2 separate regions of the Homo sapiens genome follow, and region 2 is linked to region 1. Evidence: fine-mapped expression QTL. A gene starts in region 1. The other region holds a variant in brackets. All regions are shown on one strand. Distances are from middle to middle. Region 1 holds the start of CASS4 (Cas scaffold protein family member 4). Region 2 overlaps CASS4 (Cas scaffold protein family member 4).

The links. PIP is the estimated chance that this variant, and not a neighbour inherited with it, causes the effect.
Region 2: its variant is the best candidate, but not a certain one, in a credible set for the expression of CASS4 in T cells (TOPMed, PIP 0.72).

What each region holds. Positions count from the first base shown.
Region 1 is chr20:56,409,586-56,414,964 of GRCh38, reverse strand. It overlaps CASS4 (Cas scaffold protein family member 4), which reads right to left and starts at 2,705. Exons shown (of 6, transcript NM_020356.4): 1 at 2,471-2,705. The coding sequence starts at 2,506.
Region 2 is chr20:56,452,355-56,457,733 of GRCh38, reverse strand. It overlaps CASS4 (Cas scaffold protein family member 4), which reads right to left. Exons shown (of 6, transcript NM_020356.4): 5 at 4,605-5,379. Among named protein-coding and RNA genes, the nearest start is that of RTF2, 14 kb to the left of the region's middle. The variant G/T (reference allele first, on the strand shown) is at 2,709.

The DNA.
Region 1 (5,379 bases):
TGAGGATGTAATAGTGAGAAAATGCAAGTAGAGCACTCAGCACAGGGCCTCACATGTAGACAATCGGTAAGGGTTGGCTACTATTTATATATATATATAAAGCAATTCTCCTGCCTCAGCCTCCCGAGTAGCTGGGAATACAGACGTGCACCACTATGCCCAGCTAATTTTTTTGTATTTTTACTAGAGATGGGGTTTCACCATTTTGGCCAGGCTAATCCCCTGACCTCAGGTGATCCACACGCTTCAGCCTCTGAAAGTGGTGGGATTACAGGCATGAGCCACCGCTCCCGGCCTATCTGTATAATATTAATAGCAGAATTTCATGGGGATGCTGGGAATATCAATTATATGTTCTATGCAAACATGCATGTTATTTACAAATTGCAGTGGGGCTCGGTGGTGTGCACCTGTAATCCTGTACTTGGGAGGCTGAGGCAGAAGAATCACCTGAGTTCAGGAATTTGAGTCCAGCTTGGACAACAGAGTGATACCCCCATTGCTAAAAATATTTTTTTTAAATAACAAAACCCCACCCAATTGTAAAGCGCTACATAAATTATTTAGGCAGAATAAGCAGTACATAAAAAGAAGTCTAAATCATAAAAAATCTAGGCTGTTTAGAAAAAAGGTCAATGTTATGAAAGAGAAAAAGGTAGTAGATTGTTCTAGATTAAGAACTGAGAATTGACAAACACCACCTGGATCAGAAAGACAAACACACACACAAACAACAACAGCCAGAAAAGCTAAAAAGGATAATTTTGGAAAATGTGAATGTGGACTGAATAGTAGAATGGCATTATTAAATCAACGTGAATTAGACTGAATAGTAGAAAGGCATTATTAAATAAATGTGAAATGTTCTTGGGTATGATGATATGTAGATATTCTTCTACGTTCTGTAGATGAATGTCCTTGTTCTTAGGAGACACATAATGAAGTTTAGGGGTGGAGCGTCATTGTATTGGCCATTTATTTTCAAAGAGTTTAACAACAACAATAAAAATGAAGTGTGTTCCAGTGTCTAAATATACACAAATAAATGCACACAAATATGACAAAGTACCAGAAACCAATGATCTAGGTGAAGGATATGCAGGGATTTACTGAATAACCCCCACGCTTCCCATATTTTTCCAATGGTTTGAAATTTTTCAAAGTAAGTAGTTGGGGACAAAATTCTAGGGTAGCTAAGATATTTACATATAATCTATACAAGAGAGACTGTCATGGGTTACTCAGTCACAAATTCCACTAGTGACTTTTTTTTTTTTTTTTTTTTTTTTTTTGAGACAGAGTCTTGCTCTGTCACCCAGGCCGGAATGCAGTGGTATAATCTCAGCTCACTGCAACCTCTGCCTCCCAGGCTCAAGCGATTCTTGTGCCTCAGCCTCCCGAGTAGCTGGGATCACGGGCATGCGCCACCACGCTCAGCTAATTGTTGTATTTTTGGTAGATATGGGGTTTTTTCATGTTGATCAGGCTGGTCTCAAACTCCTGGCCTCAAGTGATCCACCTGCCTTGGCCTCCCAAAGTGCTGGGATTACAGGTGTGAGCCACCGCAGACAGCCACACTAGTCACTTTTATTATAATGAAAAATAAGCATTGATTTTTATAAGCAAGCTCCCCATTTACTGCTTGTTTCATTTCTTTTTTCCTGTTCTACTTAAAATTTAAAAAGGGCATAGCAAGATGAAAACACAACCTTGAGCTTCACTTTCTTTATGTCTGGGTAAATTTTTTTTTAATATGGTAGCCATTTTAACTTTTCTTTTCTTTTTTTTTTTTTTAAGATGGGGTCTCGCTATGTTGCCCAGGCTGGACTCAAACTTCTGGGCTGAATTAATCTTCTCACCTCAGCCTCTCCGGTAGCTGGAGTACAGGTATGTACCACCGTGCCTGGCTTCTTTCACCTTTCTAAATAGTGAATCTTTTTTGATTCATGACAGGCATGAAGTCTGTCTGAAAGCTCCAGCTTTGCTCACATAATGCACAAGTTAACATGAAAATAACATGTAAGTGCCCACTGTGGGCTCAGCACGGGAGGCTGCAGGCAAGGGTCTGGGCTCTGCTGTTGGGAGGTGAGCACAGAAACCAAATAGGACAGTTAGAGTGGCACTGAGTGTCTTTGGGGTCCAGAGAAAGAAGGAATTAGCGGGGGCTGAGGCAGACTCGCATCTTGCTTCAGGAGTTTGCTGGACGCAAAATGATGGACGGCGCTGTCAACCAAGTAAGCTGATTTCTACTACAAAGTCATTTTCACCCATCTTGGATGCAAACTGGTAAGGAGCTTTACAACACATCTATTTCCCACACTTAAACTTATGTTAAACTTTCCCATCTCCAACTCACACGTCACTGGTATTCAACCTTTATTAGAAAGTCACAACTAAAGCTGGTCAACACCCTTAATCATCACAGCTTGCTCCCCGCCAGAGCCCATTCAAACAGCCCCACATCACTCACCTTGGGCGCACAGTCCATGATGCCTGTTCCCTTCATGTCGGTGATGTGGAGCAGCTCCCCTGAGCTCTGCAGCTAGTATCTCCAGCTTCAGAGGCAGATTGTGCAATGTCACTGCATGCTTCTGGCTGGTTCTCAGAAACTGAATTCTATGGAGCTATCTGACAACACATGGGAAACGATCAAAAAGACTCTCCCAGCAGGCAAACTTTCTGGAAAGCACGATAAGAGTAAAATGAAAGCAGTGAAGCAGGGGAGGACCAGAAATACAAGCCACACTCACGTCTCAATGCCTGACGTCTCACTTTGTCTGTAAGTAGAGACTGTCACTCATTTGCTATGTGAAACCACAAAAGAAGAAGAAGAAGAAAAAAACACCACTCTTCTGCTTTATAGGGCGAAGTTCCTACTTCGAAGAGCTCAGTGTATGAACACACAGCATTCTTGTCCTTTGAACTCTGTGGAACAACTCCAACCGAACAGACCAAGCTCATTTCCCTGATGAGAGGCCACTAGGCCAAATTTCTGATAGCGGTCAGCATTTCTTCCTTCCTGCTCCCTAAAACTTGCCTTATGACAGCCAGGATAAAAGCAGTCAAACAGGCTGCCTTAAAGGACACAGTCTCCACTCTACCCACCCTGTCAGTTGTGCATTCACCCTGCTCGGAACCCCATGCTCATCTCCTGGTCTTTGCTCATGGTACCTAATGAATAACATCTTCTGGGTACTGGCTCTGCACTGAGGGCTATGCTGAGCCCCGCACCTGTATTCTCTCTCTTAAATCAAATAAACTTATCGTGTGTGTTGTACTTGAAACCCCTGCTAGCTCATGCAGTTTATCATCACTTGCCAACTCTTTTTACTTTTCCTAAATTCAGATCCAATCTCTAGAGAGGACCTACAGCATAGCAGACACTGAGCAAAATAAGTCTGCATTTTTTTTTTTTTTTGAGACGGAGTCTTTCTCTGTCACTCAGGTGGGAGCGCAGTGGCGCAATCTCGGCTCACTGCAACCTCCACCTCCCGGGTTCAAGTGATTCTCCTGCCTCAGCCTCCAGAGCAGCTGGGATTACAGGCACCCGCCACCACGCCTGGCTAATTTTTGTATTTTCAGTAGAGACAGGACTTCACCATGTTGGCCAGGCTGGTCTCAAACTCCTGACCTCAAGTGATCCACCCACCTCAGCCTCTCAAAATGCTGGGATTACAGGCGTGAGCCACAACGCCTGGCCCCGGCCTGCATTTTTATTTAGACAAAATGGTGCCCATTCTTCCAAGCCAGGCTCAAGTTCTATCCCCAACCAGCTGTGGGGGATAGCTTACCGCTATCTTCTTGTCAGACAGCATTTTTTAATTTTTTATTTTTAAATTTTCTTTTCTTTTACCACACCTCTGAGGCAAGTTCAACAGATAGCACTTAGCGTCTTGTCCTCTGGTTGTCCCATGTGTCGTCCCCACAAGTCTGGGCACCAGGATGTATTTACCCATTGAAGTAGCTGACTGATTTCTGGCTGAGACAGTCCACATTTTTAAATGTTATCATTGTTAGAAATTAACTTCAGGGCCAAGTAATTGGCATGCTGCAGGCGATAGCAGATAACAGGGAGGGAACAATGACCCCACGCAATGAACAGTTTGGTTCAAGGAGGAGATCCATAGAGATATTAAGATATAAATTATATTAATAATAATATATTAATATTATATTAAGATATAATTCAGGTACCATAAAATTCACCTTTATTTATTTATTTTTTTTGAGACGGAGTCTTGCTCTGTCACCAGGCTGGAGTGCAGTGGTGTAATCTCGGCTCACTGCAACCTCCACCTCCAGGTTTCAAGAGATTCTCCTGCCTCAGCCTCCCAAGTAGCTGGGATTATAGGTGCGTGCCACCATGCCCGGCTAATTTTTTTGTATTTTAGTAGAGACAGGGTTTCACCATGTTGGCCAGGATGGTCTTGATCTCCTGACCTCGTCATTCACCTGCCTTAGCCTCCCAAAGTGCTGGGATTATAGGTGTGAGCCACCGCACCTGGCCAATGCACCTTTTTGAAGTATACAATTCAGTGGTTTTTAGTACATTCAGAGTTGTGCAACCACCATTTCAAAAAGTAATCCTCTTTCAATTCCTGGACATTTACCCCATTAGCAGTTACTTGTTCTTCCCCCAGCCCCTGGAAACCACTGTTTCTGCTGTATTGTTGACTTTTATGTCTGAAATTCTCTGTAATGAAAAGGAAGGATGGATAAACTTGCCCAAGGTCACAGAGTAAAGTAACAGACCCAGAAACTGAATTCAAGTCTCTTAGAAAAGACTCCACAGTAACTCAAGTTCAGATGGTTTCCATCAACTTGGCAGACTCCCGGCAGTGATTCTTCCCTATACTGAAGAGCCTGCCCTTAAGCTCATAATACAGATCAGAATGCTATAATTCACAAGTTGTTTTTTCTAGGGAAAACAACCTCAACTAGAAAAGTAAGACACAAAAGTAATAGGCTTTGGCCCTGAAATTATATCAACTAGCTCCTACATAGATACCTAGTTTGATATTTTGTGAATAAGGAACTTGACCTCTCGGTCTGTTATTTGAGCCCTCTATGGTTTTTCTGAATGAAAGGTGTGAGAAACTGCCTTAGACATTTTGCTGCAATCCATTAGTATTTTAAGGCAAATGAGCCTTTAATGTGGACAAACATTGCAAGAACTATTAGTCTAGGAAACTGGGTGCTTGCATAATATCCGGTTGTCTGAAGGCTGAAACAGCTGGAGTTCAAGGGAACTACGTCAGAAGGACTCTAGTGAGGTAATCTTAATGCTCTTGGCAAATGTGCTATCAAGAACAGTAGTTTGGACCGAATTTTCTTTTCTGAGACAAGTGAGTCTGACCAATTCACTTCTATAGTGCCTTA
Region 2 (5,379 bases), 43 kb before region 1:
CTAAATTTGTAACTTTTAAAAATGCACAAAAACTTGATGAGATTTAAAATTTTCTCAAAGAACAGATTTAAAAACATTTAAAAAGCCAAAAATCCTCTGATTTCAGTATCAGAGATATATCAGAACTCTCAACATTTCCAGAAGCAACTAAATACCCTGACCTATCTGCCTTAATATTATTTATTTTATTTTTTGCCTTAATATTAAAATATTTATCATATTTGCTAATAAGGTTTCATCAAAATTTTACATTCATGAATTTTATTTTCTGGAAAATGGAACCAACTTCTCCCAAATCCTACATACTCTCAAAGATTTTCAGTACCTAACTTAGTGGCCACAACTCCAGGTAACAATTGAAAGGTGAAGCTCAGAGAAGAGAAAAGGCTGCCTCCGGCTATTCCATTAGCACATGAGAGATCTGGAGCTCTAGGTCTGAAACTTGCTTTCTTTCCATTAAATTTCACACGCTCGCATTTACCTATTATCTCAAAATTCATAGCCCGGAAGCATTCAGACAGATAGGGCATAAAACTGATTTTTTCAGAAGGGGGTTATGTCTCCTAGTAGGGTTGGAGGGGAAGTTAGACAAGGAAGAGGAAGGCATACTTCGAAGAAGCACCTTCATTATTAGAATTGCATATTTGGAAAATGAAAACAATGATTGTCTTTGTCATAGAAAGTGAAGGAAAGATTGAAATGTCAGTTCACATGGACTCTTGGAAGCAGGGAGTATAAGAATGAAGCAGGTTGAGTGCAGTGACCCACACCTGTAATCCCAGCACTTTGGGAGGCCGAGGCAGGAGGATCGCTTAACCCTAGGAGTTTGAGACTAGCCTTGGCAACATACGAAACTCTGTCTCTACCAAAAACAAAACAAAACAAAAATTAGCCAGGTATGGCGGTGCGGGCCTGTAGTCCCAGCTACTTGGGAGGCTGAGGTGGGAGAATCGATTGAACCTGGGTGGTGGAGGCTGCAGTGAGCCATGATCTCACCACTGCACTCTAGCCTCAGCAACAGAGCAAAACACTGTCTCAAAAAAATAAAATAAAAAAGGGAGCTGGGCACGGTGACTCACACCTGTAATCCCAGCACTTTGGGAGGCTGAGGCAGGAGGGTCACTTGAGGTCAGGAATTTGAGATGTGCCTTGCCAACATGGTGACTCCCTGTCTCTGCCAAAAATACAAAAAATTAGCCGGGTGTGGTGGCAGGCGCCTGTAGTCCCAGCTACTCAGGAGGCTGAGGCAGGAGAATCGCCCGAACCTGTGAGGCGGAGATTGCAATGAGCTGAGATCACGCCACTGCACTCCCACCTGGGTGACAGAGCAAGACTTCGTCTCAAAAAAAAAAAGAAGAGTTTAGAAATAACGAGAAGTAATGAGGTAGGCATCAGATTATGAGCATCTTAAGTGAAAATATTAACCGTAGGGAGGTGAAAAATGTACTAAGATTCTTAACATGGGGTGCTGGAAATGTGTGGAGATAGTTTTGGTTATCGCATTGACTAGGGACTTCTATAGGCAGTGAGCGGGCAGGGGTTCTGGGATGCTGAACGGTTCACCACGCAATGGAGAACTGTCCACCCGGTGGCCAACGGTGCCCCGGGCCTCCACTGAGAAGTGCTGTCAGTCTAAAGCGGGGGCTTTCCAAGTGAGGTCCTTGGACCAGAAGCATCAACGTCACCTGCAAACTTGCTAGAAATGCACATTATTATGCTGCACCCCAGACCTACTAGATCAAAAATTCTGAGAGCGGGGCCCAGCCATGCAAGTTTGTTTGTTTTTGTTTGTTTGTTTTCTTGAGACAGAGTCTTGTTCTTGTTGCCCAGGCTGGAGTGCAGTGGTGCGATCTCAGCTCACCGCAACCTCTGCTTTCCGGGTTCAAGCAATTCTCCTGCCTCAGCCTCCCGAGTAGCTGGGATTACAGGTGCCCGCTATCATGCCCAGCTAATTTTTTGTATTTTTAGTAGAAACGGGGTTTCACCATGTTGGTCAGGCTGGTCTCAAACTCCTGACCTCAGGCGATCCACCCGCCTCGGCCTCCCAAAGTGCTGGGATTACAGGCGTGAGCCACCATGCCCGGCCAGCCATGTGAGTTTTAACAAAGATCATAGGTGATTGTGATACACTCAAATGTGAGAACCACTAGTCTAAGGCCTACTTAATGTTGAACAAAATAGCATAACTGTCAGCAATATGGCAGGCCCAAAGACTAGTGTTTGGGGTTCAGGGAGCTGAGCATCAGGAGGCCTGAATTCTTGTCCTAGTTTGCCTCTGAGAAGGTACATGACCTTATCCTATCATTGGACATCCTTTTCTTCCACCCTCTACCCCATCTGCCCTATAACCTAGGTAAGTTTCCCAAGCTCAGTTATTCAGAGACAACCTTTACAACCTTTACAAGTTATACTCTTTCCACCTTCCTCTTAACTTCTACTGGCTTCATTCCTTTCCTTTAAATGGACCCATTGTTTTTACTTACATTAATTTAAAGGAAACTGTGAAAAATGGTAAATGGAAAACTACTGTCATTGACCACAAATAGAAGGAAACCAATAAAAATAAGCACAACGATAACATCTTTGACTTTTTTTTTTTTAAAAAAGGAAGAACATCAAGTGTAAAAGAGGTGTTGAAGATATACAAGCCCCAAATCAAGATTTGCTGTTGTAATCAGAAACATTAAATCAGAATGTCAAAGAGGAAC[G/T]GAGTCAGTCCTATTTAGCCCTGTCAGTACCACCCACAACAACCTTGCAGAGCCCCTACAGTCATTTCAGTAATGGTTAATGCTTCACTTTCATTCCCTGGGGTTCGTTCATTAGACTCAGTGATCTCCAGGACTCTCTTGCTAAAATAAAGGACAAAGAATCACAAAAACGAACTCTCGCCCATGTGGGTCATGGCTGTAATGTTGAGCTATCCGTAGCATGATGAGACGAATCTAGCAATAGAGCGTATGAATCAGAAGCTTTAGAGAGTGAGTGCTATAGCTTACCATGGTTCCTAAGTCTTTGTTTTCATCTAACCTTTATTCCAAGATAGGTTTATCTTTCTCTTCTAAGTTAGGCAATGTCTGAAAAATAAAATCCCTTCAACTTACCAAATTGAGTGGTGTTTTACACTACAGTGGAACTGTTTAAGTTCACTTTAGACTTGAGCATTCTTTCTCATATTTTCTGTTGATGGTTCTGCCTACTGATTCCTTTTCTCAACCAAAGGAGACTTTGGCCACCCAAAGGCTGAATTTTGCCTATCAACATGGCCTGATATAATGACCCACATGGTTTGTTTAAAGTTATATATATGTGTATGTAAATTTTAAACATCCAAATTTCTAGAACATGTTAAAGCTCCTACACCACCAGGCATTTCAGCAGAACACAAAGGTCGGGGCTGAAAGTAGCAAATTATCTCCTTGACACAGCCCCCAAGTGACTTCTGGGCCTCTTAAGGCTCACAATCCCTGAACTGAAGCATCTCGCTCTATAATGTCTGAACTCATCCAGAAAAGTATTTCTTTCTGTCTTTTGTTTTTTTGTTGTTGTTGTTCTTGAGACAGAGTCTTGCTCTGTGGTCCAGGATGGAGTGCAGTGATGCAATCTCAGCTCACTGCAACCTCTGCCTCCTGGGTTCAAGTGATTCTCCTGCCTCAGCCTCCTGAGTAGCTGGAATTACAGGCGCACACCACCATGCCCAGCTAATTTTTGTATTTTTAGTAGAGATGGGGTTTCATCATGTTGGCCAGGCTGGTCTCAAACTCCTGACTTCAAGTGATCTGCTCGCCTTGGCCTCCCAAAGTGCTGGGTTTACAGGAGTGAGCCACTATATCCCAACTCTTTTTTTTCTTTTCTTTTTTTTAGAGATTAGCTCTTGCTCTGTCACCAAGGCTGGAGTGCAGTGGCACCATCATAGCTCTCTGCAACCCCAAACTCCTGGTCTCAAGGGATACCCCCACTCAGACTCCCAAGTGCATGAGCCACTACACCTGGATATTTAAAAATAAATTTTGTACAGCTGGGGTCTCACTATGTTGCCCAGCCTGGTCTCAAACTCCTGCCTCAAGGGATCCTCCTGCGTTGGCCTCCCAAAGCGTTGGAATTACAGGCATAAGCCACCAGGCCCAGCCTCAGAAAAGTATTTCTAAGAGTAGCTGAAGTCTGGGGGCTGATCAGACCATGGGCAATTTGAAAGAATGTTTCTACTTCCTCTTTCGTTGCTAAGAAACACACTGAGAATGACTAAATTTATAACTTTCAAAAATGCAAGGAGACTTGGTGGTGAGGTTTTAAAAATCTACTCAAATAATAAATTTTTAAGAAATTTAAAAATCCCTTTTAATTCTAATATGGTAAACTTGAACGCCAAAAGTTTTCGGAAGAAATCCAAATCAACTGACCTATCTGCCTATGCTGACCTATCTTTATCTGACTTGTTAATAAGATTTCATCAAGAATTTTACTTTCATAAATTTTATTTTCTAGAAAATGGAACCAGTGTCTCCCCAAAGCCTATACACTATGGAAAGAGTCTCAGCATCTTAGTAGCCACTACTCCAGGTAACAATTGAAGCCCCTTTTTCGATCACTTGGAACTCTGAACTCACCTGTCCACAGATATTTGCCCTATTTTTCTTTAATAGTTCAGAAGAGTGTTCATCTTCCCTTTGCTTAGTGGAAGGGGTACTCTTTTGGTGTGATTCAGTTTCTCTTTGGGGAGGCTGGATGTATTTTTCACACTTAAATTCTGCATTTGGGGTCAACTGCACAGTCTCTTCCTTTTCACAGTTCCGCTTAAAAAGGAGCCTTCCATTGGCAATGACAATGGAGGCAAACCTCTTGATGTCTTCTGGAAGCATCCGTGCCACCATGACAAACCTCTCAAGGTCATCTGGGCTGTTCTGGACACTGTCAGTCACAAGAACTTCCAGAGGCCAATTGCGATTATCCAAGCTTTCCTTTGTTTCAAGCAGGATGCGGTAGGAGTTGGAGATGGTCTGCATCTGGTCCCGAATTCTGTTCTGAAGGTTACTGTCAGTGAGGTTACAGGCAGTCCCATGGACTCCTCGGGCAAAATCCAGAAATTCTCTTACAGATTCTTCTATGTGATCAGTGGACCTGTGGATTGCATCAATGTTGGCCTCCAGATAGTCTCGGAATCTCCACTTCCTGCTGACAAAGAGCATCAGGCCAGCGACAGAGCTGACCACCTTGTGCTGCAGAGCCATCACTGTCTCCTTGGCCACATCCAGGTCCAAGGAGAGCTCCTTTGCTGACTCCTCCGAGGAAGAGCTGGAGGAGTCGTCGGTGGATGTGGTGGAGCACGAGGAAACGATGCTAGCTCTGCTGTCAGAACTGGAACCTGATAATCTGTCCGGTTCA